4 linked regions of the Homo sapiens genome follow. Each later gene encodes a partner of the first gene's protein in a complex. Each region holds a gene or a part of one and is shown in the gene's direction. Other genes may lie near its edges.

The links.
Region 2: SNRPD1 (region 1) and PRPF3 share a complex: the UniProt entries of both Homo sapiens proteins name them as parts of the U4/U6-U5 tri-snRNP complex.
Region 3: SNRPD1 (region 1) and EFTUD2 share a complex: the UniProt entries of both Homo sapiens proteins name them as parts of the minor spliceosome.
Region 4: SNRPD1 (region 1) and SRRM1 share a complex: the UniProt entries of both Homo sapiens proteins name them as parts of the minor spliceosome.

Annotation. Positions count from the first base shown.
Region 1 is NC_000018.10:21,628,591-21,635,056, forward strand, and holds the end of SNRPD1 (small nuclear ribonucleoprotein Sm D1), read left to right. Parts: intron 1-471; coding exon 472-548; 3' UTR 549-4,930; downstream 4,931-6,466. UniProt on the Homo sapiens protein: Plays a role in pre-mRNA splicing as a core component of the spliceosomal U1, U2, U4 and U5 small nuclear ribonucleoproteins (snRNPs), the building blocks of the spliceosome.
Region 2 is NC_000001.11:150,337,709-150,346,467, forward strand, and holds part of PRPF3 (U4/U6 small nuclear ribonucleoprotein Prp3), read left to right. Parts: intron 1-451; coding exon 452-618; intron 619-2,689; coding exon 2,690-2,769; intron 2,770-4,321; coding exon of another isoform or gene 4,322-4,335; exon of another isoform or gene 4,336-4,444; intron 4,445-5,600; coding exon 5,601-5,744; intron 5,745-6,453; coding exon 6,454-6,553; intron 6,554-6,667; exon of another isoform or gene 6,668-6,725; coding exon 6,726-6,839; intron 6,840-8,309; coding exon 8,310-8,428; intron 8,429-8,699; coding exon 8,700-8,759. UniProt on the Homo sapiens protein: Plays a role in pre-mRNA splicing as component of the U4/U6-U5 tri-snRNP complex that is involved in spliceosome assembly, and as component of the precatalytic spliceosome (spliceosome B complex).
Region 3 is NC_000017.11:44,860,814-44,868,445, reverse strand, and holds part of EFTUD2 (116 kDa U5 small nuclear ribonucleoprotein component), read left to right. Parts: intron 1-95; coding exon 96-159; intron 160-548; coding exon 549-639; intron 640-3,380; coding exon 3,381-3,516; intron 3,517-4,663; coding exon 4,664-4,791; intron 4,792-5,539; coding exon 5,540-5,733; intron 5,734-7,632. UniProt on the Homo sapiens protein: Required for pre-mRNA splicing as component of the spliceosome, including pre-catalytic, catalytic and post-catalytic spliceosomal complexes. Component of the U5 snRNP and the U4/U6-U5 tri-snRNP complex, a building block of the spliceosome.
Region 4 is NC_000001.11:24,645,336-24,654,094, forward strand, and holds part of SRRM1 (serine/arginine repetitive matrix protein 1), read left to right. Parts: intron 1-648; coding exon 649-738; intron 739-1,331; coding exon 1,332-1,454; exon of another isoform or gene 1,455-3,523; coding exon 3,524-3,694; intron 3,695-4,635; coding exon 4,636-4,751; intron 4,752-6,073; coding exon 6,074-6,277; intron 6,278-7,098; coding exon 7,099-7,293; intron 7,294-7,577; coding exon 7,578-7,697; intron 7,698-8,759. UniProt on the Homo sapiens protein: Part of pre- and post-splicing multiprotein mRNP complexes. As a component of the minor spliceosome, involved in the splicing of U12-type introns in pre-mRNAs. Involved in numerous pre-mRNA processing events.

The DNA of each region.
Region 1 (6,466 bases):
TTAATAAGATTGTGATTTGATGTAATACATTTAAACTTTCCTGGTTTTGAATTAACTTGCTTGGATTTTATTCAGTTACCAAAACTCTGGCATCAAGGTGATCATGTTTTATTCTGTGATATATATCTTCCCTTTTTTTGTGAGGTTCAAATCATTTTATGGTGAATTTGAGACATGATATAAAGAAAAAGTATTTTTAAATTTGACACATTTCTTAGTAAATAAATTGAAATGAAACAAATAATAATCTCCCTAGGCCTTTAGTTATTGGTTCTGCATGATAATGTGTTGGGGGGTGGAGGGAATCTGAAGTCTAACACATTTAACAGAAGCTAGTTAAACTTTATTTACTGTAGCTACTAATAAAGAGCTATAAACAGGGAAAGGTGTGTGTGTAAATGTTGTTTGTGGTGTCTAGGTAACATTGGTGCAGGAGAGAATTGAACTTGGTTTGTTTTTCTTTTCCTTCAGTTGCAGGAAGAGGCAGAGGAAGAGGAAGAGGAAGAGGACGTGGCCGTGGCAGAGGAAGAGGGGGTCCTAGGCGATAATGTCTCTCAAGATTTCAAAGTCATATGAGATTTGGGATATTTTTTGTACAGGTTGTGTTTGTTTATGTCAGTTTTTAATAAACATAAATGTGGGACAGAGCTGTCTATTTAGTATATCAAAGTTTTAGTAGTTTCCTCCACATTCACGAAATTACCACAGTGAGAGCTAAGCATTTCTACTGGGCAGTTTCATTTTTAGTTGATCAGGTTTTAAGTTTTTGAACTAAAATTTTTCTTTTTCTTTTTATGATGAATAAGGTTAAAATAAAAGCCTTAGACAAATTAAATTTGGCAGAGTTTAATTGAGCAAAGGACAATTCACAAATCAGGTAGCCCCTGAACCATAATAGGCTCAGAGGCTTCAGCCCAGCTGCATAGTTGAAGATTTATGGACAGAAGGAAAGTGATGTATGGAAAATGGAAGTGAGATACAGCAACAGCCGGATTAGTTACAGTTCAGCGTTTGCCTTATTTGAATATGGTTTGAACAGTTCGCTGTCTTTGGTTGGCTGAAACTTAGTGATTGCCACAAGAGTAGGGTACCGTCTGTTTACACGTCCAGTTAGGCTACAGTTCTATGTACTGAGAAACCTTTAAGCTGAACTTGAGATATGTAAAGAGACTTTAGGCTAAACTTAACAATATATATAGGATATATACCCTTCTACTTCACATGCACTGAATATGCATTTTATTGCTTTACTCTTCATTCTGTGGCACCTACCCACAGGGGAAGTAAGAAGTTTGTTTTGGTATTTCGGAAACTAAAGTCCTTATGGGATGGGGTCTAGAATTGATTCTCCTTTCCTGAGTTTTACTCCACGGAGTCTTAGGTACCTGGTAAAAAGTTGTCTTCTAAATTAAGGGTCATTGCTTTGTTGTCTAGCTGCTAATGTCTTACTTTTGTTTCTTTTGCTTTTTAATCAGTTCTTAATAGGATATAGTTTTATGTTTTCCAAGTTATAACTTGGAGTTAATGGTCACTAGATTATCAGTTATGAGCAGTGTTAAAATCTCCTATTAATGTGTAATGTACCTGTCAGTGCCTCCTTTATTAAGGGGTTCTTTGAGAATAAAAGAGAAAAGACCTACTTTATTTGACAGCAAAACTGTTCTAATTGTTAATAAGGACTTTTAAAAATTGTTTTTGATTTGCTAAGCTCAGAAAAAATGTCTCTCAGTGCATCAGTTCTTTGTAAAGCTTACTACGAAGTATTTATATGCTAAGGAAAACAACTGAGGATGTGGGTGGCTTAAATCTGTATTTTCATCATGTATGTGAGTTTTTTTTTTTTTAAGTAAAGAAATTTTCTGCAAAGATCGTTACCTTAAAAAAGTTTAGCCTGGGTGTGGTGGCTCACGCCTGTAATCCCAGCACTTTGGGAGGCCGAGGCAGGTGGATCACGAGGTCAGGAGTTGAAGACCAGCTTGGCCAAGAGGGTGAAACCCCATTTCTACTAAAAATACAAAAGTTAGCCAGGTGCAGTGACAGGCGCCTGTAATCCCAGCTACTCATGAGGCCGAGGCAGGAGAATTGCTTGAACCCAGGAGGCGGAGGTTGCAGTGAGCCGAGATTGTGCCACTGCACTCCAGCCTGGGCGATGGAGTGAGACTACGTCTCAAAAAAAAATCGAGAGAGAGATATATATATGTATTTATATATATATGTATTTATACTAATATATAAATATATACTAATAGATATATTAGTATACATGTAGAATGTACCTGTCATATATATTAGATATATAAATGTATATATTGGTATAAATAAATACTAGATATATATTTTTTTAAGTATCTTACCTCATCAAGTAAATTCAAATGCTTTTTGATTTTTCCACAGTTGATAATTTTTTTTTGTAAGTCATTGAAGTTATATAGTAATTAGCGTTTTTTCCCCCACAAATTATTGGCAGTGGTCACCCAGTTGTATTACAGGTTCTATGATCCAAAAAGGGATGTATGAAATTCATGATGATTAAGACAATTTTTTCTTTCTTTCTTTTGAGACAGAGTCTTGCTGTGTCACCCAGGCTGGAGTGCAGTGGTGCGATCTTGGCTCACTGCAACCTCTGCGTCCCGGGTTCAAGAGATTATTGTGCCTCAGCCTCCAGAGTAGCTGGGATTATAAGCGTGCGCCACCACACCCAGCTAATTTTTTTGTATTTTTAGTAGAGACGGGGTTTCACCATGTTGGCCAGACTTAAGACAATTCTTTAATAGTAAATATATTAAAGGTGAGTTGGCTTGACAAGATACAACCAATATGTAATTTTTCTCCACACGTTTTTTTTTTTTTTTTTTTTTTTTTTCTGGAGACAGTCTTGCTCTGTTGCCCAGGCTGGAGTACAGTGGCGCGATCTTGGCTCACTGCAAGCTCTGCCTCCCGGGTTCAGGCCATTCTCCTGCCTCAGCCTCCCGAGTAGCTGGGACTACAGGTGCCTGCCACCACACCCAGCTAATTTTTTGTCTTTTTAGTAGAGACGGGGTTTCACTGTGTTAGGATGGTCTCGTTCTCCTGACCTCATGATCTGCACGAGGCCTCCCAATGTGCTGGGATTACAGGCGTGAGCCACCGTGCGTCCCCGGCCTATACCTTTCATTAATTAATAAGCTGGGGGAATAAATAACTGGATTTCATTCTTTTCCATCTTCTGACCTGTTGGTGCTCCTATTGCTTGTATCCAAGTAGAAGGCAAAAGGCAAGAGACCCCTGTAATGCAGCAAGTGGAGAGATTTGTTGAAGGGGTCAAACAAAACCCTGCAAGAGTAGGAAATAAACAGTTGGCTCCTGTCCTCGTGGAGCTTATAGACAGAAGCAGATAACAAATAAAAATTGGAGCTTAGTGCCGTGGTGCACACTTGTAGTCCCTGCTACTGGGGAGGCTAAGGCAAGAGGATCGCTATAGCCTGGGAATTTGAAGCTGTAGCGTGCTATGATTGCAAGCAGCCTGGGTAACCTAGTGAGACCTGGCTCTTAAATTTAAAATTTAAATGAAAATGGCCACTTAGCATAAGAGATCTAAAATTACGTTTTGTCCTGGCATGGTGGCTCATGCCTGTGACCTCAGCACTTTGGGAGGCCGAGATGGGCGAATCACTTGAGGTCAGGAGTTCGAGACCAGCCTGGGTAACATGGTGAAACCCTGTCTACTGAAAATACAAAAATTAGCTTGGTGTGGTGGCGGGTGCCTGTAATCTCAGTTACTCAGGAGGCTTAGGCAGGAGAATCACTTGAACCCTGGAGGCAGAGGTTGCAGTGAGCTGAGATCACACCACTGCACTTCAGCCTGAGTGACAGAGCGAGACTGTTTCAAAAAAAAAAAAAAAATTTGTTTTGAGAGTTTTTGTGTCTAGGATGTTTGCAGTGTGAAGCCAGTCTAGTAACAGTTTAAATGTAATAATAAATCACAGTGGGTACTAGATTGAGTTTATTCCACTAGAGGTCATTATTTCATTTCCATGTGAAAGGGCTAAAATTGGGTGAAGAAAAAGCTATTTGAACTGATTACCATCATTTGCTATAAAGGAAGCATTATAGTATGAATAGAAAACAGACTAGAGTTTAACATGCTTCTCTTGACCCCTCTTCACCACCCCCTAAAAGGCAGATGGGATCTTAGGACTGCAGCATTTTGTACACATCTGATATTTAATGAGATGTTACATATGAACTTTAGTTTTTTTTCTTTTCTTTTCTTTTCTTTTCTTTTCTTTTTTTTTTTTTGAGACAGAGTCTAGCTCTGTCACCCAGGCTGGAGTGCAGTGGTGCAATCTCGGCTCACTGCAAACTCTGCCTCCCGGGTTCACGCCATTCTCCTGCCTCAGCCTCCTGAGTAGCTGAGACTACAGGTGCCCACCACTATGCCCGGCTAATGTTTTGTACTTTTAGTAGAGACGGGGTTTCACTGTGTTAGCCAGGATGGTCTGAATCTCCTGACCTCGTGATTCGCCCGCCTCGGCCTCCCAAAGTGCTGGGATTACAGGCGTGAGCCACCGCGTCCGGCCGAACATTAGTTTTTAAAGAAATGTATTATGAATATAGATAGAAAACCCAAAGTGAAGGAATAGAAAATGAAATATCAGTTTCTTTTAATCTATCATAATTATGTGAGCATAACTTAGTATTTTGAAATAGATTAATGTAGTCAGCAAACAATTCATGTATTACCTATAATAGATATCATACATATAACATTTAATAACATACAGTTCTTGTTCCTGAAGACTTAACCTAGAAAATAACTCCATAACAAGAAGAATCTCTGTCATAATAAACCAACAGCAGACATTTTCTAAAGGCATTAAAAGTATATCTGATACTGGCCTTTATTAATGTGAAATTCTTGTGGATCTGTGAAATAAAGAGGAGTACTTTCTTTTCGTTTTTTTTTCTTTTCTTTTTTTTTGAGACAGTCTCACTCCTTCATCAAGGCTGGAGTACAGTGGTGCGATCTTGGCTCACTGCAACCTCTGTGTCCCGGGTTCAAGCAATTCTCGTGCCTCAGCCTCCCGAGTAGCTGGGATTACAGGCATGCACCACCACACCCAGCTAATCTTTGTATTTTTAGTAGAGACAGGGTTTCACCATTTTGGCCAGGCTGGTCTCTAATGCCAGACCTCAAGCGATCTGCCTGCCTCAGGCTTCCAAAGTGCTGAGATTACAGGTGTGAGCCACTGCGCCCAGCCAATAGGAGTACTTTTGAAAAGGAAGATAAATTTTTTTTTTTTGAGACGTAGTCTTGCTCTGTCACCCAGGCTGGAGTGTAGTGGTGCAATCTCAGTCCACTGCAAGCTCCACCTCCCGGGTTCATGCCATTCTCCTGCCTCAGCCTCCCGAGTAGCTGGGACTACAGGCACCCACCACCACGCCTGGCTAATTTTTTGTAGTTTTAGTAGAGACGGGGTTTCACCGTGTTAGCCAGGATGGTCTCGATCTCCTGACCTCGTGATCCGTCTGCCTCAGCCTCCCAAAGTGCTGGGATTACAGGCGTGAGCCACCACACCCGGCTGATAAACTTTGTAATACTAAGTTCTTTCTGTGTGGGAACATAGTAGTGTTCTCTATCTGAACCAGCTTTTCTTCTCAGTGAAGTTTTAGGGTTTTGTTTACGTATTCCATATATTTTGAGAAATGTTAATATACAGTGAGATTCAGTTTATGAAGAAAATAGTAATAATAGCAAGGCTGTAGATACCCAGTGCAGTCAATTCTTGGAATTTTCAGTAGTTGTGTAAAGTTGCTGTTAATACTAAACCACTACTTCTAGGGAAAATATAGGGTTAAGTTCCTGCAAGCCTCTAGTCACATTTTCATCAACCAACCAATACATAACCTTGTTTTATGAGTGTTTCTGTTTAGAGACATATATAGTAGTATATGTAATACATATATACTACTGATTTGTTAATTCATGGCTAGCAGCACTAACTCATCCATGAACAAAGCTTATCTAACACTTATTTTCTCAAAAAGGCACATCATAGCCTTCTTGAATTTAGGAACACGACAGCACTAAACCTGGGGGCCATTTTAAATGTCTCAAAAAAAAAAAGAACAGTTAAACAGGCTTGTTTAGGGTCTTTGCCATCCCACAACACACGCTGCCTATGCACAACTAGTGTTTTCCTACTTCTGTGGCTTTGTGCTTGTCTTTCCTCTTCCTGTAACATCCTCACCTTCCCAAGTTCTCTGTGTTTGTCCTTAAGAATCCTGTATCATTATAGCTGAAAGACATTACAGACCATCTAGTCCTTGCCTTCTGTTTTCAAGTTGAGCAAACTGAAGCTGACAGAGGTGGAACTTATTTGCCCAAGGGCCACAATAAGCCACTGGTGTCTGGAGGATGCACGGGCTCTGTGCTTTTCCTACCTCCTAGGATGTATTCCCCAGTTGCCCTCCTTCACTCCCTGTC
Region 2 (8,759 bases), on another chromosome or scaffold:
TGGAGCTTACACTGCACTGCACTGCAGCCTGGGTGACAGAGTGAGACTCCGTCTACAAAAAAAAAAAAAAATATTTGGGATTCTGGCCGGGCACAGTGGCTCATGCCTGTAATCCCATCACTTTGGGAGGCCGAGGCGGGCAGATCACCTGAGGTCGGGAGTTTGAGACCAGGCTGAGCAACGTGGAGAAACCCCATCTCTACTAAAAATACAAAATTAGCTGAGGGTGGTGGCACATGCCTGTAATCCCAGCTACTGAGGAGGCTTAGGCAGGAGAATCGCTTAAACCTGGAAGGTAGAGGTTGCTGTTAGCCAAGACCATGCCATTGCACTCCAGCCTGGGCAAGAAGAACGAAACTCCGTCTCAAAAAAAAAAAAAAATTGAGATTCTACACATTCTGTTTTCTATGACTCCAATTTATCTTTCTGTCTTGGATTATCTTGTTTTTAGGCTCAACTGGAGAAGCTACAGGCAGAGATTTCACAAGCAGCTCGAAAAACAGGCATCCATACTTCGACTAGGCTTGCCCTCATTGCTCCTAAGAAGGAGCTAAAGGAAGGAGATATTCCTGAAATTGAGTGGTGGGACTCTTACATAATCCCCAATGGCTTTGATCTGTGAGTTTGTTTTAGTACCTTTTTAAAAAAACAGTTTTTAATCAGCTGAGTTTAAGACTCAAGTTAATACCTTTTAGTAAAGCTATGGTTTTAGTGGGAAGGATGGTACTCATTCATTAATTAAAATTTTTAAATCCAAGAGAGATAAGTAACTGTACACAAGGTCCTGTTATTTTTTTTTTTTTTTTTTTTGAGAGGGAGTCTCGCTCTGTCACCCAGGCTGGAGTGCAGTGGCACGATCTCAGCTCACTGCAACCTCCACCTCCCGGGTTCAAGAGATTCTCCTTGAATTCTCCTTGAATCTCAGCCCCTCAAGTAGCTGGGACTACAGGTGTGTGCCACCATGCCCATCTGCTTTTTGTATTTTTGATAGAGACAGGGTTTTGCCATGTTGGCCAGGCTGGTCTCGAACTCCTGACCTCAGGTGATCCGCCCACCTTAGCCTCCCAAAGTGCTGGGATTACAGGCGTGAGCCACTGCACCTGGCCAAGCTCCTGCATTTGTAAGTGATGTATCATATATATAGGCTGTTTTTAGCTTTTGGGGTTAATGTAGGATAACCAGGGACACAATCTACAAAAGCAAAGTCTAGAATTCTTTTTGCTCTGTTACACATTGTTGCCTGTTTTTAGCATTATTTTCCTTAATTACATTCTTTTGCTACGTATTATAGGTGTTTACATTTCCTAAAGATCTCATTGTGATAGAGCAAGGATTATTAGTTGGTAGGTGAGATAATAGTAAATATAGCATATAAGGCTGGGCTCGGTGGCTGACACCTGTTATTCCAGCACTTTGGGAGGCTGAGGGCTGAAGGATTGCTTGAGCCCAGGAGTTAAAGACCAGCTTGGGCAATATGGTGAGACCTCGTTTCTACAAAGATTAAAAAAAAAAAAAAAGTAGCTGGGCATGGTGGCTTGTGCCTGTAGTCCTGGCTACCCAGGAGGCTGATGTGAGAGAATCACTTGAGCCCAGGAGGGTCTGTGCTGCAGTCAGCTATGATCATGACCACTGCACTCTATCCTGGACAACAGGGTGAAACTCTGTCTCAAAAAAAAAAAGGATATAAGACACATTTGAAGAGCTTTAAATATATCTGCTCCATCCATTTTTTTTTTTTTTTTCCTGAGACGGAGTTTCGCTCTTGTTGCCCAGGCTGGAGTGCAGTGGAGCAATCTTGGTTCACCACAGCCTCCGCCTCCTGGGTTCAAGTGATTCTCCTGCCTCAGCCTCCCAAGTAGCTGAGATTATAGGCATGCACCACCACGCCTGGCTAATTTTTGGTGTTTTTAGTAGAGACGAGGTTTCTCCATGTTGGTCAGGCTGGTCCCAAATTCCCGACCTCAGGTGATCCACCCGCCTCAGCCTCCCAAAGGGCTGGGATTACAGGCATGAGCCACCACGCCTGGCGTTTTTTTTTTTTTTTTTTTTTTTTAAGACAGAGTCTCACTCTGTTGCACAATCTCGGCTCGCTGCAACCTCTGTCTCCTGGGTTGAAGCAGTTCTTCTAGCTCAGCCTCATAAGTATCCGGGACTACAGGCAAATACCACCACACCTGGCCAGTTTTTATATTTTTAGTAGACAAGAGTTTCACTATTTGGCCAAACTGGTCTCAAACTCCTGACCTCAGGTGATCCACCTGCCTTCATCTCCCAAAGTGCTGGGATTATAGGCATAAGCCACATCACCTGGCCCTGCTCCATCATTCTGATACATGGCTTTAGTAGATTTTGTCTTAGCCTTTCGTTGCCCCTTCTTTGTCAGCCACTGTTCCAGGGACTTATTGTCACTAATGAGAGAACATAGCGTCTGTCAGCTGTGGCATGGTAGAAAAAAGGTTGAGAATGATTGCTGTGGAGAGTGTGTTCAACCATAGAGGGACTCAGTTTTCTCATCATGAAAATTATGTGTAATTTAACTATATATTTTAGGTACCTAAATGCTATTTTAGGTATATCAAGCACAAGAACCCATTATAGAGAGTGGGTTTTTTCATTGTATTTCTGAGACTCCTCTCTTAGAATCATCTCTACCCGCATATCGTGTTTTCTTTTCTTCCTACAATTTTAGTACAGAGGAAAATCCCAAGAGAGAAGATTATTTTGGAATCACAAATCTTGTTGAACATCCAGCCCAGCTCAATCCTCCAGGTAATGTATAGATTCCTGAATCAAGTCTCTAGAGCAGCATTACCCATTGGAAATTTATACAGTGAGGAACATGTTCTGTATCTATGCTGTTCAATACAATAGCCACTACCCATGTGTAATTCTTTTTTTTAATTCAGTTTTTTTCCTGACAATAGTTTGTTGTTTGACCAGTGAACATACATTTTAAGTGCATATTCCTGTGCTTAGAATTTCATGAGACAGCCAAGCATGGTGGCTCATGCCTCTAATCCAAACACTTTCGGAGGCCAAGGCAGGAGGATTGCTTGAGGCCAAGAATTCAAGACCAGTCTGGGCAACACAGTGAGACCCATCTCAAGGAAAAAAAATTTGGCTGGGTATGGTGGCTTATGCCTGTAATCACTGCACTTTGGGAGGCTGAGGTGGGCAGATTGCTTGAGCTCAGGAGTTCGAGATCTAGGCAACATGGCAAAACCCCATCTCTACAAAAAATAAAAAATCAGCCGGGCATGGTGGTGTGCATCTGTAGTCCCAGCCTCTTGGGAGGCTGAGGTGTGGAGGATGGCTTGAGCCTGGGAGGTGGAAGTTGCAGTGAGCTGAGATGGTGCTGCTGCACTCCAGCCTGGATGATACTGCCAGACCTTGTCTCAAAAAAAAAAAAAAAAAAAAAAGAAGAAAGAAAGAAAGAAAAAAACCCAAAATTTCATGAAGCTTTACATTTACAGTTCCCTGGTTGTTCCTAGGAAAGAGCCCTCAGCTTGCTCCTTTTATAGAACCACATGTTGTTGTGGCATCCACAGCTAAATGCAAATGCAAGAGCCAAACTCTTGGGTTGGTGTGTTATTAGATGCGATATGCTCCACTACCCACTGTGAGGGATGCTAATTCCAAAGGGCTTTTTGTTAGTTTCCCAAAGTTGAAACTGGGAAACAAAGTTGCTTCTATTTTTTTTTTTTTTTTTTTTTTGAGGAGGAGTTTCGCTCTTGTGGTCCAGGCTGCAGTGCAACGGCATGATCTCAGCTCACCACAACCTCTGCCTCCTGGGTTCAAGCAATTCTCCTGCCTCAGCCTCCTGAGTAGCTGGGATTACAGGCATGTGCCACCACGCCCAGCTAATTTTGTATTTTTAGTAGAGACAGGGTTTCACCATGTTTGGTCAGGCTGGTCTTGAACTCCTGACCTCAGGTGATCTGCCAGCCTTGGCCTCCCAAAGTGCTGGGATTATAGGTGTGAGCCACCGCGCCCGGCCTTTTTTTTTTTTTTGAGTTGGAGTTTCGCTTTTGTCACCCAGGCTGGAGTGCAATGGCACTATCTCCGTTCACTGCAACTTTCACCCCCCTGGGTTGAAGCTATTCTCCGGCCTTAGCCTCCGGAGTAGCTTGGATTATAGGTGCCTGCCACCACACCTGGCTAGTTTTTGAACTTTTAGTAGAGACAGGGTTTTGCCATGTTGGTCATGCTTGTCTTGAACTCCTGACCTCAAGTGATCTGCCCACCTAGGCTTCCCAAAGTGCTGGGTTTACCGGCGTGAGCCACCGCACCTGGCCCTAATTTTGTTTTCTACATTTGCCAGGTATCATTGAATGAGGGGGTTTAACAGCTTAAAGGAAAACAACTAAGAACACTACTTAAGAAAGATAAGAGGCCAGGCGAGGTGGCTCATGCCTGTAATCCCAGCACTTTGGGAGGCCGAGGCGGGCAGATCACGAGGTCAAGAAATCAACACCATCCTGGCTAACAAGGTGAAACCCCGTCTCTACTAAAAATACAAAAATTAGCCAGACGTGGTGGCGGGTGCCTGTAGTCCCAGCTACTCAGGAGGCTGAGGCAGGAGAATGGTGTGAACCCAGGAGGCAGAGCTTGCAGTGAGCTGAGATTGCGCCACTGCACTCCAGCCTGGGCAGCAGAGCGAGACTCCGTCTCAACAAAAGGAAAGATAAGAATGTTTTTTAAAAACATAGCCATATTGCCGGGCACCAGGCCTGAACTGATTTTAATCTTACTGATCCCTTATTAACGAGTTTTCTTCATTTTCTATTTAAAGTTTATACACACACACACACACACACATGTTTTTTGAAATGGAGTCTCGCTGTGTTGCCAGGCTAGAGTGCAGTGGCAAGTGGCACAATCTCGGCTCACTGCAACCTCCACCTCCCGGATTCAAGTGATTCTCCTGCCTCAGCCTCCCGAGTAGCTGGGACTACAGGTGCGTGCCACCACGCCCAGCTAATTTTTGTATTTTTAGTGGAGTCAGGGTTTCACCATGTTGGCCAGGCTGGTCTCGATCTCTTGACCTCGTGATCTGCCCACCCGTGCCTCCCAAAGTGCTGGGATTACAGGTGTGATCCACCGCACCTGGCCTCAATATATTTTTTACATAAAATGTTTATAATAGAGTTGGGTCTCACTTGGTTGTCCAGGCTGGTCTCGAACTCTTGGGCTCACGCCATCCTCCCACCTTGGCCTATCAAAGTGCTAGAATTACAGGCATAAGCCACTGTGTCCAGCCTAAAGTTTCTTTTAATGATATTGATATTTACCTAGGTTTCTTTAATATTTTTATTGCTGTCCGGGCCTGGTGGCTCATGCCTGGCCAACATGGTGAAACCCCATCTCTACTAAAAATACAAACATTAGCCAGGCATGGTGGCGTGTGCCTGTAATCCTAGCTACTCGGGAGGCTGAGGCAGGAGAATTACTTGAACCCAGGAGGCAGAGGCTACAGTGAGCTGAGATCGTGCCATTGCACTCCAACCTGGGTGACAGAGTGAGAGAGAGAAAAAAAAAAAATATATATATATATATATGTATTCTTACTGCTTTGGTATACTAATATCTCTGCCTGACAGTTGACAATGACACACCAGTTACTCTGGGAGTATATCTTACCAAGAAGGAACAGAAAAAACTTCGGAGACAAACAAGGAGGGAAGCACAGAAGGAACTACAAGAAAAAGTCAGGCTGGGCCTGATGCCTCCTCCAGAACCCAAAGGTGCATTTCTCAGTGGCCTCTTCTGTTAAAAAGAGTGGCAAGTTTATGTCTTTAATCCTGGAGGAACTTTAACATCTCTGTGTTTGAGTGATTTCTGTTTCTAAGAATTATTCTTGGGGTCCTTTTTCTCCAAGTTTTCTACCATCTTTTCATATTAAGATAGGTCAACACATTCATTATAGAGGCCATTTATGGCTTATTTTTAAGCATACTGATCATACAACACTCTGGTTTTCCTGGAAGAATACAGGTCTTGAAATTCATGGAGATAGTAGTTGCAGTATTTGCGTAGACTTTTTATGTACATAATTCTTAATGTTTTAATTTTTACAATGAAAGTACAGGATAAAAAACTTGACCCTGTAGTTACATTCTCGTTCAGCAGTATTTTGACTGAGCACTATTATTTATAAGCTCTTTCACTAGATGCTGTGATCAGTGTGAAAAATATGAAAGGAATTAAGTTCCACGTCCTTCATAAATTTTCAGATAATGTAAATGCATACCAATCTTCAACTTAATTGTGTGAACTTCTGCAAATGCTGAAGTGATTGGATGGGATTTTCAAGATAGGAGTTATTGGAGGAAGTGAGTTTAGAGCAGAGATTTGAAATAGGTAAATAATATGAATTGGTATGGAAGAAATAACAAGTTACTCCAGCTGGAGAAGTGACTTCAAAGACTGATTGTTGTCCTCTCTTCACTGCAGTGAGAATTTCTAATTTGATGCGAGTATTAGGAACAGAAGCTGTTCAAGACCCCACGAAGGTAGAAGCCCACGTCAGAGCTCAGATGGCAAAAAGACAGAAGTAAGTGCCATGGGATTGGGTGGAAACCTCGGGCAAGTACCTTTCCCAAACTCTTCTGGGGGGTCCATATTTGGAGGGAGGGGAGAGTTCTCCGTTGCTCTCTCTTTCCCTCAGCCCTGCCTCTGATCTTCAATGCCTTTCTCACTTGTGGATGTCCTTCCTGTCACGACAGAGCGCATGAAGAGGCCAACGCTGCCCGAAAACTCACAGCAGAACAGAGAAAGGTCAAGAAAATTAAAAAGCTTAAAGAAGACATTTCACAGGGGGTACACATATCTGTATATAGGTAGGTGTCCATACTGGGCCAAACTTCCCCTTAGAATTACTAAAACATTTTCCAAGTGCTTGAGGCAGAATCATTGTGGCCTAAAAGCATACCTAACACCAGTTCCTACTCTCTTTTAATGACCCTAGTGTGGATCAAGAGCTAGTAAATCTTGTAAAATAGCGAGAGTTAATGACTTATGTTTATGGTTACCCAGTTCTTCCCTCTCAAGTCTTCTTTTTTTTTTTACCAGAATATTAGTTCTGAACAAGTCAATATACTTGTTCAGGCCAAGATGTGAACTAAAGATTGTATGTCCTTTGAGAACTATAAAATATCATCCTATTTCTTTTTTTTTTCATCTTTTTTTTTTTAAATGGTCTGAGTTTGCTTCCAACATCCATGGAAGCATTACAAATTTTCTTTCCTCCGTAGTCATATCCTTACCCTGATGTATTGCTGTGTTTCATCCTCACTCCAAAATGCATTTTATATGTTGTAAATATTTTTCTACCTTTGTGTTGATTTAATGTTTTTATTCTTTTATGTTGAGTACATGTGTATCTTCTATTTTTAAAATGTGCTTATTTCTATTAACTAGTTCTTTATTATAAAAGTGGTACATTATCACAAAAATAGTGAATGCTTATTAAGATTTAAAAAATTGTCTGACAACACAGAAGAATACTTACTCAAAATGTCTCCTTTCTATTCTCTGATCCCTTAGAACCACTCTCTTTAGGTAATTGCTATTAACAGTTTTTCACATATCCTCCTAGAAAATTTTCATGCCTATATAGTGATCCTATATATATATTTTATTTATTTATTTATTTATTTTGAGACGGAGTTTCAGTCTTGTTGCCCAGGCAGGAGTGCAATGGCGCGATCTCAGCGCACTGCAACCTCTGCCTCCCAAGTTCAAGCAATTCTCCTGCCTCAGCCTCCTGAGTAGCTAGGATTACAGGCACGCACCCCCACGCCCGGCTAATTTTTGTATTTTTAGTAGAGATGGGGTTTCACCATGTTGGCCAGGCTGGTCTTAAACTCCTGACCTCGTGATCTGCCCACTTTGGCCTCCCAAAGTGCTGGGATTACAGGCATGAGCCACCGCACCCAGCCAAGTAATCCTATATTATAAGAGTCTAAGGGTCTAGAGGACAAAAAGTCTGTAGGTCTTTACATTGTCAAGAACAATGAGATTGTAAGTATTTTTGGATGATAGTAAATACCTCTCCCTGACTCTTAGAGTAAACTTTGGTTAGTAATGTAATGGTTAATGTAAAGTGCTAGACTTTGAAGAAATGTAAGAGTGTGGAAATATTTCTAGACTCATCAACTCTACCTTTTAAGCATTCATCTATTTGTTTACTCCAGAGGCCTTTGTTTATAGAGAGGAAACCATTTTGGATTCATCTTTTTACTTGCCACTCCATTCAGGCAGCTGCTGATGCTAAAATGGAAGACATAACTAAACTTTCCCTTCTCCAGAGTTCGAAATTTGAGCAACCCAGCCAAGAAGTTCAAGATTGAAGCCAATGCTGGGCAACTGTACCTGACAGGGGTGGTGGTACTGCACAAGGATGTCAACGTGGTAGTAGTGGAAGGGGGTGAGTCTGAAAAACTTGAGGGAGACTGTCCCCAGACAACCCTAGGCTTAGAGTGATTAGCATTGTGGGGAGAAAGGAGAAAAAGATCGTATTTTAGTGCCATACCTGATATAATATGCTAGGTCTCTGCTTCTGTGTTTTTTGGAGTAGAAGGCCCTAAGATGTGGTTCCTGAGATTGCTTCAACTACCACATTAATGTCTGAGCTCAGAGGTTCTTTCTACCCCATCATCTTCCACAGTTCTGGCAAAATTATTCTTCTCTGTTTCCAGGCCCCAAGGCCCAGAAGAAATTTAAGCGTCTTATGCTGCATCGGATAAAGTGGGATGAAC
Region 3 (7,632 bases), on another chromosome or scaffold:
AGAAGTTCTCAGCTATGAACCACCTGTGGCACCTGAAACAGAATTTTGAACGACACTTTGCTAGGTAGATTATAATTGTGTGGCTTCTCCCATAGGTGACATTAATTACCAAGAATTTGCTAAAAGACTCTGGGGTGACATCTACTTCAACCCTAAGACGTAAGTAGAGTATGGGACGTGACTTTCCAGAGGGGTGATCATTTACCCAGTAAGTGAGGACAGTGAAATTCTCTGAGTTCAAAGATTAAATACCTACTTTTTTTTTTTTTTTTAATGTAAACTACCGTCTTTCCTCCCCTAAATGGGTTGGCTTCCTAAGCTCTGATCTGGTGAGAAGCTGTTTCTCCTGAAGTCTTTACAGCCCAGCTCAGGCATCCAGGAGGGTCATAACCATGTATCCTTCCAGGAATCTGTCTCTGGAAACTTTACAGTCACACACACATTCCTCCCCTGGGCTGTTGTTCAGATTCAGCACTTAGACAATGCCTCTTGGGATCAGTGATAGTGCCTTTTCCCCTGGGTCACTCAGAACTTATTTTTCCTTTTAGGCGAAAGTTCACCAAAAAGGCCCCAACTAGCAGCTCCCAGAGAAGTTTCGTGGAGTTTATCTTGGAGCCTCTTTATAAGATCCTCGCCCAGGTGAGTGTGTCAGGTCACACTGGGCAGATCTGCTCTTATAAGCACAGTGTGGAAGAGCTGGTGAACTCACACTTCCCTCTGTCCCTAAACCTGCTCAGTTTTATGTCAAGTATAAGGGTGGTTGTTGGTCACTAATTGTTCCAGAAGTAATCTTCTGGATCCAGAACACTACATTACTCTAAGTGTTATTAAAATCAAAGGAAAGGGGCCCGGGCATGGTGGCTCATGCCTGTAATCCTAGCACTTTGGGAGGCCGAGGTGGGCAGATTGCCTGAGCTCAGGAGCTTGAGACCAGCCTAGGCAACACGATGAAACCCCGTCTCCACCAAAATACAAAAAATTAGCTGGGCATGGTGGCGGGCGCCTGTAGTCCCAGCTACTCGGGAGGCTAAGGCAAGAGAATTGCTTGAACTCAGGAGGCAGAGGTTGCAGTGAGCCGAGATTGCACCACTGCACTCCAGCCTGGGCGACAGAGCGAGACTCTGTCACCAAAAAAAAAAAAAAAAAAATCAAAGGAAAGGGAAAAGGTATGAAAGAAAAGACTTCTCCTAGAGCAGGTTTATGAACAGATCTTGACTATTGAGAAGAATGTGACACTTAGAACTAATCATTTCAGTTACGGAAATTTAACTTACAGATATAATTGTGAAAGTCCTCCTGCTTATTCATATAAGTCAAAGTGTTTATTATAGCATTTTTAGAGATAGGGTCCCACTCTGTCGCCCAGGTGGGAGTGCAATAGCACGATCATAGCTCACTGCAGCTTCAAACTCCTAGGTTTGAGCAATCCTCCCACCTCAGCCTCCTGAGAAGCTGGGACTGCAGGTGCAAGCTACCATGCCTGGCTAACTTTTAAAAAATTTTGTGTAGAGACAGGGTCTTGCCATTATCCCCAAGCTGGTCTCAAACTTGTAGCCTCAAGTGATCCTCCTGCCTTGGCCTCCCAAAGTGCTGGGCTTACAGGCAGGAGTCCACCACCTCAGCTTATAGCATTGTTTGTAACATCAGGAAAAGGGAAAAAACTGGAAATAAGTTAAATGTTTGTCAGTTATGCTCATTAATCTGATTAAATGAGTGATGGTACATCCCATAAAATGAACCGCTTTGCAACCACTTAAAGTATGTCTGAGCTGGGCACAGTGGCTCAGGCCTGTAATCCAGACGCTTTGGGAGGCCAAGGCGGGAGGATCACTTGAGTCCAGGAGTTCAAGACCAGCCTGGGCAACATGGCAAGACCCCATTTCTACTAAAAATACAAAAATTAGCCAGGCGTGGTGGCTCATGCTTGTAATCCCAGCTACTCTTGAGGCAGAGGCTGCAGTGAGCTGAGATTGTGCCACTGCACTCCAGCCTGGGTGACAGAGCAAGACTCCGTCTCAAAAAAAATAAAATAAATCAACTGGGACTGGTGGTGTGCACTTGTGGTCCCAGCTACTCAGGAGGCTGAGGCCAGAGGATTGCTTGAACCCTGGTGGTCAAAGCTGCAGTGATCCATGATCACACACCACTGCATTCCAGCCTGAGTGATGGAGTGAGACCCTGTCTCAGAAAAAAACAAAACAAAGCATGTTCGTATGAACTTTGCTTTCTTAACTGTTTGCACAATATGTGATGCTTGTCAGATTGAAATCATTTGTCAGGAGATGGTAAGGATTTAATTAAGCATGTGGAATGCTGAGAAGCAAAGAATATAACGTGGCCGGATGTGGTTGCTCACGCCTGTAATTCCAGCACTTTGGGAGGTCCCAGTGGGCAGATCGCTTGAGATCAGGAGTTCAAGACCAGCTTGGACAACATGGCTAAACCCTTTATCTCCGCACAAAATAGAATTAGCTGTTGTAGTGGTGTGTGCCTGTGGTCCCAACTACTTGGGGGGCTGAGGCAGGAGGATCACTTGAGCCCAGGAGGTGGAGGTTGCAGTGAGCCGTGATCACACCACTGCACTCCAGGCTGGGTGACAGAGTGAGACCCTGTCTCTAAAAAAGGGAATATAGCATGACGTTTATATGAATTTGTACTCCCTAAAAGATGGGACTAAAAGGGTAAAAATTATAGGAATTTTCATACAGACCTTTCTCCCAAGGCAGTAATAAAATATGCAGGTATTTAATAAGCACAGTGGACACACACATACACAAAATGTGTGTGGCCATTCCGGTGGACAAAACAGCAAAACCTAGCAACAAGATAAAATAGCAATTAAAATTTATTAGTGCTGAAAAATACTTAGTATCTTATGTCAGACTGGAATGGATTAATAAAAAAAATTTATAGAGCCTGCCTCAGTAGAGACCTTGAGTCTACTGAGGGTGATTTAGCTTGGCCCTGCCCTGACAGGATCCACAGCAAGGTGACCTTTTTTGGTTCCTTCCAGTGCACAATGATCCTCTAAATCTGAGAAGTCTGTAAATAGACTTCTGTTTAATAGGTGAGGGAGTTTCTGAGTGGGAGGAGATGCTGCTTTTCAGACACCAGGGGGCAGCACTGGGAGTAATCAATCTGAGTGCTTGGTTTATTGGCTGGGATGGGGATGTAACCAAGTTGGCTTTGCCTGTGGTTTGAAGGGTAGGTAGCAGAGATGCCGCTGAAACCAAACTTTTGTCCTTGCCAAGAGCTTTGTCTCCATAGAAGAGAGCCTTGTGAAGGAGTTCTTCAGATATTTCTTTGGACTTCCCTTGTCTCCCTCTAGCACCATGCTCAGGCTCTCACTACAGCTGACATGGTGTCTTACACCCTCACAGGTTGTAGGTGACGTGGACACCAGCCTCCCACGGACCCTAGACGAGCTTGGCATCCACCTGACGAAGGAGGAGCTGAAGCTGAACATCCGCCCCTTGCTCAGGCTGGTCTGCAAAAAGTTCTTTGGCGAGTTCACAGGTAATAATGTGCTCGTGGCCCCTTAACTCTGTCATCCTCGTGCCCTGCCACAGGTATCACAGCAATTTTTTCTCACCCAGCGATGGAGGTCAGAAATCTGAGGATCTTTTCAACAAACCACAGATTCAGATGCAGAACACTGGTGTTTTTCCTAGCTGCTTTCCTTAGTGGATGATGGCACACATTCTATCTTGGGAACCAAAAGGAATTACATTTTCCTGCCAGGAGGAGTGTTCAAGTAAATGAGATGGGGAGGCAGGCTCTGTGGTTCTGGTATATTTTCCAGGGGGCAGCCGGGAAGGTGGATGCTTGGGTAGTGTGAAATAGTGCAAAAAGCACTAGGCTAGGACTTGGGAGACTTGGTTAGTTACACAGAAGGCACGTGATACAGCAGAAAGACACTGGACTGGTTGAAAAAACCACCTGAGTCTGTCTCGATCCTGCCCTGGCCATTCCATGAGATGACCCTGGGCCAGCCACCTAATTCTTCATGACTCTGATTTGTTATCTGTAAAATCAGGGAAGTGGAAAGGGTGATGGCTGAGGGTCTTCTCAGCAGTCTCTGATTCTAAGTCCGGTGGGAATTAGGTGTCTGGGCCCCCAAGGTGCGTAGTTTTAATAGCTTATTTTGGTCTGCCCATCAATCTGACACACCAGATACCATTGAAGGCACACAGGCCTATCCCAGTGTGCTCATGGGGGTTCCCTCTTATGTGGTTTATTAATGTGTTCAGAAAACGGGGTAACTTATTGAATAGAGATGCATGCAGTGTTTCTCAAGGGGAGTCAGGTTGGGAATTGTTTTAAGTAGATGTTAGATGGGGTGCTTATTTTGTTCCACGTAAATGCGTATAGCCAATAAAAGTTCATAGATCGATGTACTTTAAACTTTTTGTCAGCTGAGTTCCAAGGAACCATGTACCACTGATACCTGCTGCTTGCTCTTTTCTGGCATCAGGGTGACTCCAAATCTTCTAGCAGCACATTCCCAGGAAGCAGGCTATCACTATCTATAGTGCCAGAGCTTTTAGAGCTAACAATCAGTCCCCGCACTTTGAGCTTTTTGACCATTGTGAATGGCTCAGTAACTCCTGCTCGTGCTCCCTGGGAAGGCATGTATTAATGGCTTTCTCTTCTCCATCCACAGGCTTTGTGGACATGTGTGTGCAGCATATCCCTTCTCCAAAGGTGGGCGCCAAGCCCAAGATTGAGCACACCTACACCGGTGGTGTGGACTCCGACCTCGGCGAGGCTATGAGTGACTGTGACCCTGATGTAAGGGCATGTGGCTCCCCGGTTCTCTGGTCTTTTTTTCCCCTTCCTGTGTGGGGATACTGATTTCTGGTCACAGGAGTAATGCCCACTTTCCCACCCTTGCCTCCCCATCCCCATGAGCACAGTCAGGCCTGAATGCAAAGCCTGATGTTGCCACCGCTAGTGCTATGACCTTGGGAACATTACTCACATTTCCTGAGCCTCAAGGCCTTGGTCTATAACACGAGCATAATAAAATGTGAGCGGTTGTTATGAGATTTAAATAAGATTAAGGAAGTGTTACGGTTGTGTTCAGCATGTTGCCTGGCAGATACTAAAGATTCAACAAATGGTAGCTAATCTTGTCAGTCCTGGCTTTTAAAAACATCTTTCCCAGCCATTTCTTAGGCTGTCTAGTTTCTTATCATAAATACACAGCCAGTTGAGAATTGAGTTACATCTTAAGAGGAAATTTGGGACAGTAAGTAATCTTGCCAATAGTGCCTCTCTGCTATCTTAAATCTGTGTCTCTTCCTCAATGCCCTTATCCTCCCAAAAAAAAAAAAAGAGGAGAATATTTTTGCTCTGCCATGTCTCCTATTCATCCTTCTCAGAGGGATGGGGTAGAACATGGTTTGGAGATGAGACTACCTCATCTTTCTCTAGCTCCTCATAGAGCTCATGTCCTTGCTGTCAAGGAAGATGGCGGGGAGTAGTACTTCCCCGGAGCATAGATGTGGTTGAAGCTGCACCCTGTCCCCTCTTCCAGGGCCCCCTGATGTGCCACACTACTAAGATGTACAGCACAGATGATGGAGTCCAGTTTCACGCCTTTGGCCGGGTGCTGAGTGGCACCATTCATGCTGGGCAGCCTGTGAAGGTACTGGGGGAGAACTACACCCTGGAGGATGAGGAAGACTCCCAGATATGCACCGTGGGCCGCCTTTGGATCTCTGTGGCCAGGTACTGCCAACCAGAGCCCCAGGAGTATGCCTTGGTGTCTATCCAGGGGCTGCCCCCAAGGAGCTGGAAGGAGTGATCCTCCTTGGAAGTAGTTGCAAGGCTCTGTGCAAGAGGGGATAAAGTGGCTCTCCCTCCGCAGGGCTATTGACTTCAAGTTCTTCCTGTCCCAGGTTTGCTGGGGCCAAAGGCAGCTACTGTTGGAACAGTGCCAGAAGCTTCGCCTTTGCACTTTGGGTGGCTCGTGTGAACTTTTTTTTTTAGCCCTATTTGTTTGTTTTGAGACAGGGTCTCACTCTGTCTCCTAGGCCAGAGTGCAGTGGCACAATCTCAGCTCACTGCGACCTCCGCCTCCTGGGCTCAAGCAGTCCTTCCACCTCAGCCTCCTGAGTAGCTGGAACTACAAGCACACACCACTATGTCTGGCTAATTTTTAAATTTTTTGTAGAGACAATGTCTCACTATATTGCCCAGGCTGGTCTCCAACTCCTGGGCTCAAGTGATCCTCCCACCTCAGCCTCTCAAAAGTGTTGGATTACAGGTGTGAGCCACCACACACCATCTTAAAGCCCTTTTGAAAGCATGAAGCTTGTATGAACTTTTGTAGGAGGATTTCCATTGTTACTCATCTTAATCCTCTTTTCATTTCCTCTCCTGTGTTCCTTAAGTCATAATCTTTGTGTTTCTTCCCAAAAGAAATTGTTCCCCAACTCCACTGTCTACTCTTTGACCAAGAGAGAAGGCTTCGCTGGATCCCTTGTAGCATCCCAATCTGCAGTCAAACTTAGCTTGGGCCTCTGGGCTACTTGTCAGTTTATGAATTTGGTTTCCCAGTTGACAAGTTAAACCAAAGCATTCGTGTTCCCTAAGGTGGCTACCCTGCCTCAATGGTGGTCCCTTTTGTTAAATCCACCCTAAATGCCAAAAGGTGGAATATTGAAGAGCTGGGAAAGTGGAAGTTTTCTGTGATGCTTTTTTTTTTGAGATGGAGTCTCACTCTGTCGCCCAACCTGGAGTGCAGTGCCTGTGATCTCGGCTTACTGCAAGCTCCACCTCCTGGGTTCATGCCATTCTGCTGCCTCAGCCTCCCAAGTAGCTGGGACTACAGGCGCCCGCCACCATGCCCAGCTAATTTTTTTGTATTTTTAGTAGAGACAGGTTTCACCGTATTAGCCAGAATGGTCTCGATCTCCTGACCTCATGATCCACCTGCCTCAGCCTCCCAAAGTGCTGGGATTATAGGTGTGAGCCACCGCTCCCAGCCTTTTTTTTTTTTTTTTTTTCTCTCTGTCAGCCAGGCTGGAGTGCAATGGCGTGATTGCGGCTCACTGCAACCTCTGCCTCCCGGGTTCAAGCGATTCTCCTGCCTCAGCCTCCCAAGTAGCCAGGGTTATAGGTGTGCACCACCATGTCTGGCTAATTTTTTGTATTTTTAGTAGAGATAGTTTTCACCATGTTGGCCAGGCTGGTCTCAAACTCCTGACCTCAGGTGATCCAGCCACCCACCTCAGCCTCCCAAAGCACTGGGATTATAAGCGTGAGCCGCCACACCCGGCCTTCTTTGATGCTTTTGCTAGCCCCTTACAGTCGACACCTTGGGCAGCTTTTTACCATGAGCCTGCAATTGGAATAAGATTTTCCTCTTATGTCCTCACAGAAATACCTTGTACTTTTCTTTCATAATGCCCATCAGTTTGTAACCACATACATGTGTGGATAATGATTGTTTACTGTATCTCTCCCCTGCTAGAATGTATCTGTTTTGCTCACCCCTGCTCTTGGCACGCAGCAAGTACTCAGTAAATTTTTGTGGAATAGGCTGGATGTGGTGGCTCACACCTGTAATCCTAGCACTTTGGAAGGCTGAGGCAGGAGGATTGCTTGAGCTCAGGAGTTCAAGAC
Region 4 (8,759 bases), on another chromosome or scaffold:
GTTATTTCCGTGTTTAATTGGGCCAGTAGGAATGACAAAATGAAAAGAATAATTAGTGATCACTCGATGATCTAAGGTAGTATTTGTAAGCTTTCATTTTTCCAGGTTCTTTGCTGAAATTGAGTTTATTTAGGTAACCCTGTCTTCTTCACTCATTCCAAGTTCCTAAAAGTTGTAGAAGACTAACAGCACAGTCCTGGGATGTTCTTTTTTCCTTTCACCCTGTTTGTATGCATTGCCACAGTAGTTTTGCAAGCATGCAACTGGCTTTCAAAAAAGAATGAAATTTCAAATACTTCAATGTGTTCTCATTTAAACAGAAAAGCCCTACGTATCTATTAGCATAGGAAAAGGTGTGAAAGGATACAAATCAAATCTAACATTGGATATGAGGAGGTGTTGGCTTTATGCTGTATACTGTTGTTTTAGGTTTGACTTATGATGAACATATACTTGATAATTTAAAAATCCAGTCAAGTTTTCCAAGTATCAGCTACATTGGGGAAGGAGTATGCATTTCTCATCTATGAAAACTAGTTTGGTATTGTGTTTACTTGGTTACCCTATTTTGGCTATAAAGGTCGTAGGTGATAAAAAGTAAGGATTTAACTTTGAACCCTTAGTTAAGATGTGGTTCTCTTCCTGCAGGGAACAAGTGCAGAACAGGATAATCGGTTCAGCAACAAACAGAAGAAACTACTGAAGCAGCTGAAATTTGCAGAATGCCTAGAAAAAAAGGTATTCTTCTGGATGAGACTGTTGTGCATCTTTATAGCACACTTACTTGACTCAAGTTCTGGGGTTGTTTTGGAGATGCATTGTAACTTGAATGCTAAGAAAAACATAATTGAACATTAACCACCTTTTAGCCACCACACGTGGCACAGCCATATAAGAATTAGCAGATTGTGGCTGGGCGAGGTGGCTCACGCCTGTAATCCCAGCACTTTGGGAGGCCGAGGCGGGCAAATCACAATGTCAGGAGATTGAGACCATCCTGGCTAACACGGTGAAACCCTGTCTCTACTAAAAATACAAAAAATTAGCCGGGCGTGGTGGCGGGTGCCTGTAATCCCAGCTAATTGGGAGGCTGAGGCAGGAGAATGGCACGAACCTGGGAGGCGGAGCTTGCAGTGAGCTGAGCACCACTGCACTCCAGCCTGGGCAAGAGTGCAAGACTCTGTCTCAAAAAAAAAAAAAAAAAATTAGCAGATTCTACTATGCCAAACAAAAAAACTAAGCTAAAAGGAACTTTGGTAGACAGAACTCTAACTTGAGCATTTTTTTTTAGGATTGTGAAGTTGTACTTAATTGTTTCTATGTTTCATCAGGTGGACATGAGCAAAGTAAATTTGGAGGTTATAAAGCCTTGGATAACAAAAAGAGTAACGGAAATCCTTGGGTTTGAAGATGATGTTGTGATTGAGTTTATATTCAACCAGCTGGAAGTGAAGGTACTAATATACAAATGGCTCTTGTTTCTGAATATGTGATATAATTTGTGAATCTTTGGAAACTGAATTTTTTCTATGGAGTGCAAATATAGAAGGGTTATTTTACAATGTTTGTTGTGAAAAGAATTCACTTTGTAAACAACTATTAAGGCTGGAAGTTTAGTGAAGGTGCATAGTTTTGAAAGCTACACAGGTGAAAAATCAAACTTATTGTTTGTAATTTTGCTGTTACATGTTAAGTTACTTTGACAGCAATTTTCTAATGATAATGTGATTTATGATTTAAAAGGCCTGAACCAAAATGGAAGTTATTCCTTGCGTCTGAAGTATAGCACCATCACCTTATTAGGTCACAGCAGAGTGAGTGTCCCAATGTCGCTCTGACCCAACTCCCTTGATGATGCAGTGTGTGTTTGGAGGTGAGTTGTGTAAAGTGGCCAAACATCAACAACAACAACAAAAAACACAAACAGGAAAGAGCAATTGGGTAAAGCTGTACACTGCTCTTTTAAAATACTATTATGAGATGGACATTTATGTGAAGCATGAGGGGCAATTCTGATTTGATTGGATATTGTTTTTAAAGGAACTAAGGTCTTTGTAGCTGCATGTCAGCTAGTCATCAGTTACATTTTAGAGACAGGATTTTTGTTTATACTTAAACTTCAGACAAATTGGCAGCATATAATTGTTCCTTTATACATGAGATAATATGATGATATAACTGATGTTTAAGAACATTCTTATTGTAAGACAGTTTCTGTTTTGCCACAGCAACCCAAAGGACAGTTAAGATATGTACCATATGACCTTTTTGCATATATACCAATGTGAATTTACTTTTACATTAATCATTTCCCCCAAAGAGTTCACCCTATGTTTTGACAGAACAGTTGGCATTTCAACTGATAAGGTATTTCTAGTTTTAAAATAATTTGGTGTTTGTATTTTGTTTTGAATATTTTTAAAGACTAATTTTAAGAATGCACTTTCTATAAAGTATATGCATCTTAGAAAACCAGGAACAGGGGAGAAAGTTTTTTAAATGATGATTGAAGATAGATTTTATTGGAGAAATGCTTTACTGATGTGTATTTTAGTGCATTTTAAAAACCTAAGTATCTGGTAGTATTCCCCTTGTAGTGAGCATGAGATTAAAGTTTAGAACTTTTTAAGACAATTCTTTTTTTGTGGTTGTGTACTCATTATTGCTTGTTCGTCTTTTGCAATTTAGATAAATGATATAACATTAAACTCAAGGTGGTTGAGTTGCAGTAGGGAGTCGGAAGCAAGCCAAGGGAACATCTTTCTCTACAGGGGACTTGGCGATTCCAAACCCCCAAGGTTCCAAGAAGAAACTGAAGACACCTGGAATCTGTACTTGCTTTGTGCTATTGAGCTGTGCTTGTTATACAGACCTTGTTGCTTGACCAACGGATTTAGCATTTAAAAACCCAATTATTTTTGAGAAATCTTGACCTCTTAGCACTTTGTGGACAGTTGAGAATTTGAGGCATTGTTATAATAGATTTTCCTTATATAAAACTCAGGCCTTTAGCTTAGCCCTCAGAAGTTACAGACTGCATGCATAACTTGTTAGTTTTCATAACTGGACAATAGATATTTTATGCAAAGCTATCTGTAGTGTTAGGGAGCAGTTTATGTACTTTTTCCGTTTCTCATTGGGGGAAAATTTCCAGGCAAGCAAATACTTTTCTTGTTAGTAAATACTAGAATTTGTGGATGTTTCATGATGGTTTTTAAAGTTAATAAATGTAAGGCCCACTAACAGCCACAGAGTCTAAAAATACTTACGAAATCCACAAAGGATTAACAGGCTGCTCTGATGCTTTTGGTAGAGTGAGAGAGAATTTGGTAATCTGTTAGAGATTATATTGCTGAGAAGCTACTAGGGAAGACTATTTGTAAAATAGTAAGGACTATATATATGTCTAAGCCCCTATGGTAGACTTAAAAAATACTAATTTAAATGAGTTTTAGGTTGGTTGATTTGTTGGTTGGTTGGTTTTGAAGTAACCTGTTTTTCTTCCTGTCGTGTCTTTTTGCAGAATCCAGACTCCAAAATGATGCAAATCAACCTGACTGGATTTTTGAATGGAAAAAATGCTCGAGAATTTATGGGAGAACTGTGGCCCCTGCTGCTAAGTGCACAAGAAAACATCGCGGGAATCCCTTCTGCTTTCCTAGAACTGAAGAAAGAAGAAATAAAACAAAGACAGGTAATAACCTTTTCTTTTCTGTAATGTCGATTTGAGAGTATTGGCCAGGCTGCCGAGACACCTTAGGTAGTATATGACTCAGCTAGGATCTTCATGTAGTTTTGCTTTGCTGTACTGTATTTAAACATTCAGTTTTGGTTCACTGCTCCTCCCTCCAACCAAACATTGAGTTTAGAATGTCATTTTCCCAGTCTAGTGATTTGCTAGATTTTTACAAATTCTTAATATGTGAGTGCATGTAGCTTAAAAGAAATTTGAATTTAACACTGAAAGGTAAGCATAAGGATTTTTGGTTTGTTGTTTTTTTGAGACACAGTTTCAGTCTGTCACCCAGGCTAGAGTGCAGTGGTGTGGTCTCTGCTCACTGCAGCTTTCACCTCCTGAGTTCAAGCGATTCTCATGCCTCAGTCTCCTGAGTAGCTGGGATTACAGGCGCACACCACCACATCCAACTCATTTTTGTATTTTTAGTACAGACGGGATTTTGCCATGTTGGCCAGACTTGTCTCGAACTCCTGACCTCAAGTGATCTGCCCGCCCTTGGCGGGATTATAGACGTGAGCCACCGTGCCCAGCCAGCATAAACTCTTAATATGGGCAATACAGATGAACTCCCAGAAAGAATAAGGTCAATGTGAAAGTGATTTTCTTTTTTATTTTATTTTTTATTTTTATTTTTATTTTTTTGAAGTAAGCTTGAAAACATCTCTTTAGTTCAGGTCTTAGAGATTAACTTTCAGTGAATATTTATTTGTAAATGAGTGGCGATAATACCAGTCTTAATGCGTATCTGTAGTGTAGGTGAAGAAAGAACAGGTCTGGTTCAAAAGAAGAGGCCGATGAAATGATAATAGCATTGGTGTTTAACACACGTAGAAAGTAGTCTTCAGTTTGTTCTCAAATGTTCAACTATGTGTATTTTGAAAACCTGGTCTTTGCAGATTGAACAAGAAAAACTGGCATCTATGAAAAAGCAAGATGAAGACAAAGATAAAAGAGATAAGGAAGAAAAAGAAAGCAGCAGAGAAAAAAGGGAGCGGTCTCGTAGCCCAAGAAGGTATCATACAATAGATGCATAACTGATGTTTTACAGGTACTTTAGGTCTTAAGAAACTTCCTTAGTTAAAAAGGAATCTAACAGCGCTATTCAAGGAATTTGTTCCATCATGCAGTTTTCATGGTGACCTGTGCCTTGCCTCTGGACTAAAGAAATCTGTCATATTTTGTTTGAGACAGATAATTTAGCCATGAGTGTCTCGCAGATGTTCATAAATTATCCAACTCTAAATTCCTAAATCAAAACTTTAAACTTTTTCTTCCATATTGCTTTAGTTCATAACAGTTAATTTGGGTTTTTAAAAATGTACTCTGACTCACTTTTTCTTTCCATTTCCTTTCTTCTAAAAAGAAATCTGTACTCGAAATCTGTACTCATTAGCCGTTCATGTAATACTTACCTAATTCCCTGTTCTGCTTTTCTTAGATGGTTGTACTGAACCCAAACTTCAGATCATTTATTTGTTTTCTTCTTCCAGTGAGACTATTGTTAGGTTCACATTTTTAAATCCACGGCTCAGCTTCTATATTTGTGGTGAAAGGTGAGAACTCCATTAGGCTTTTTATTTTTAGGGTTCTGCTTATTTCTTTCATAAATGTCTGCTGGAATTAGTAAAGAGAAGAGGTAATTTCTTTGTCCCTTTCATTTATATATTTGATACTAAAATCTCCTTATGGAAGTAATATTTATAGAGCTAAGCACAAATTGTCATGGTGGTAACTACTTGACTATTGATGAAGTATGTCTGCCATTTTCCTTCTGTGTGAATAAGAGAAAAACCCTTCGAGTTAGGCAGGCTACTGTTAAGAAAGAGGGCTTCTCCTCTCGCAAAAAAGCTATCTTCTGGATGTTTGATGTATATTTCTCTTTTCTGAAGAACATGTTGCTTTAATGGTATTAGTCATTTTTCTGGCATACTGAGGCTCTTCCTGATGAACTCCATTGTAATCTGTCCGCATCTAAATGTTTTATGTTTGGGAGTTTGATTTGTTGTCAAGGATTATCATTGTTTGCTTTAAAGCATCCTCTTTGCCTCTGAAAAGTTGGTCTTTTGATCTCTGGGAATGATTAAGAACCTAAGTCTAGAGTCCCAAGTTAGTGCTTTTCTCCCTTATAACTGATATACTCGAGAATGTTATCTTTCATTTGCTTGTCTTTCTCTTCCCTGTCAAGTAGATTAGGTTAGCATGTCTTATTTCCATAGGGAAACATCTCAGATATAAACAGTAGTGTAACTAAAGATTAATCCTCACTTCTCCCTTTGACTCCTCTCTTCCAATCCATGTTATTTAAAAACCTGAAAAAAATTACTTTCATCCTAGACGCAAATCCAGATCTCCTTCCCCTAGAAGACGATCTTCCCCTGTCAGGAGAGAGAGAAAGCGCAGTCATTCTCGATCTCCCCGTCACAGAACCAAGAGCCGGAGTCCTTCCCCTGCTCCAGAAAAGAAGGAAAAAACTCCAGAGCTCCCAGAACCTTCAGTGAAAGTAAAAGAACCTTCAGTACAAGAGGCTACTTCTACTAGGCAAGTATATAAAAATTCATTTATAAATAATCACAATTTTAGATTAATAGTGACTGCAAATATGACATCTGAGTTAAAATAAAACTACTTATTTTCCTTTTAGATTTTTTAAATTATAAAATTAGTTTGTTGAAAAGAAATTGTTTAGGAGAGTATATTAGAAGAAAATGCCCCAGAGGGTGACCATTACTATCTTTTGGTTGTATTGTTTCAGGTATTTTATATATTGTAACTTGCTTTTTTTCCTCAACGTATTGTGGACAACTTCGCACTTTTAAGAAATGTATGTGGTTGCCAGATGCGGGGGTGCATGCCTGTAATCTCGGCACTTGGGGAGGCTGAGGTGGGTGGATCGCTTGAGCTCACAAGTTAGAGAGCAGCCTGGGGCAACATGGTGAAACTCCATCTGTACTAAAAATATATATATATATATATATATATATATATATATGTACACACACACACACAAATTAGCCGGGCATGGTTGGCACATGCCTATAGTCCCAGCTACTCAGGAGGATCACTTGAGCCTGGGAGGTTGAAGCTGCAGTGAGCCAAAATCATGCCAGTACACTCCAGCCTGAGTGACAAGAGTGAGACCCTGTCTCAGAAGAAGAAAAGAAAATGTACATGGTTGGAATTATTAGTTGCTCTCTGGGTTTCAGTGATAGGTACATACATACTTATGTGTCTTTTGGAGATAGAGACAAGTCTGTGAATTTTGAAAAGTTTTAGAAATACTTTATTACATCATTGTGTAATGATTTAGAAGGCTGAGTACAAGAAGGCAAAAAAAAAAAAAAAAGCTTTTGTTTCCACAGTGACATTCTGAAAGTTCCCAAACCTGAACCTATACCAGAGCCTAAAGAACCTTCTCCGGAAAAAAATTCCAAAAAAGAAAAGGAGAAGGAGAAGACCCGACCACGATCTCGGTCACGCTCCAAATCAAGATCCCGGACGCGGTCCCGCTCTCCTTCTCACACTCGACCTAGACGGCGCCATAGATCCCGATCAAGGTGAGTTGTGGCTTTAAGATCAACAAAGATCTTAGGTTTTATATACTACTCTACTGGGTACAATTAGATAAATAATTTCAAAGTGGTAGAAGATGTTTAGTACAAATATTTTTTGAATGTACACAGAGAATTTGAGGACACTTTTCTGTGTACCATAAAAATCTACATAAATGGAAAATTTTGATCTTTGAAATTTATTTTTTAGATGTGGCCATTGAGAAAACTAAGCCAAGAAATTCCTCACTCCTGGTTTATTCAGGACCTAATTCTCTTTGTTATGGCAGATCGTATTCACCTAGAAGGCGGCCAAGCCCAAGAAGGCGGCCATCTCCTCGAAGAAGAACTCCGCCAAGAAGAATGCCTCCTCCACCAAGGCATAGAAGGAGTAGATCTCCAGTAAGACGGTAAGATTTTTTAAATTTGGAAGTGTCAAGTGTTTGACACTTCTGGATAATCTTTCTTTTAGGATAATCTGTAAATTAGTGTCCCCTGGAAGAAAGAACTGATAGGTGATATTAGACAATGTCTTCTAAAGAGTCTGTTTCATTTGAAGTGTAATGCAGTTGTTCGTGTTATGAAAAGTGTCTAGTCTGGTGTTGGAAAGTAAACGAGAAATTCATCTTATTGATACTTTTCTGTTAACTTTTACCCTTCTAGACTTCACCAAGAAATCATACTAAGTAAGAGAATTGGCCACCTTCTCTTTGGCTTTTAACTGGCTTCTGAAAAGTAGCTGATTATAGGGCCAGTAAGCTCCTTTTACCAGTATTAAAGTAATTCATTTGCTGTTATACTTTGAGAAAAGTATTTTTATGAATTTTTTATAAAATTCTCAGAAAATTCTCATTATAGAAGTAATGAAGCTTATAAGTAATTCAGACAGAAATAGCATAACTTGGAAGTTTTCCATAATCCGTGGGGGAATATATCTATATTCCATAGATATAATTGCTATTACTAGTTTAGTGTCTGGTTATTTTTCAAAACCCCAACTGTACCAGTGTTCTTTTTTTTACATCATTCTAAAATGAGCATAAGATAAAATATTTGAATCTTGGATATATCACTTTAAACAAAAATTAGTGGCTAAGTCTACCCAAAGTAGAGTCCTAGTGCACTGGTAGCAGTTTTTGTGCCTTCTTGCAATACGTTTCACCTGGCTTGGGAAGAAATGCCGATGATTAAGCTTCCAGTTATTTTGGACAGAATTTTTTGTTTGAGTCTTTTAAAGTTCTTTTCAGGGAACCAAATCAATTTGGAAATAAAGAGGGGAAAAATCAAGTAAGCTCTGTAAAGTTACTTTGTTTCTGCAGTCAGGTTTTTCAGAGTCCCATATTTTGAAAATTTTCTTTGGGGAGGGGTTGTTAAGATATATTGAACTATTACTACTGTTGCAAAGAATTGATGTGTTGTGCTCATAGAGGAAATTAGTGAGGTAAATGGTCAGTCAATTTTCAGGCATCACA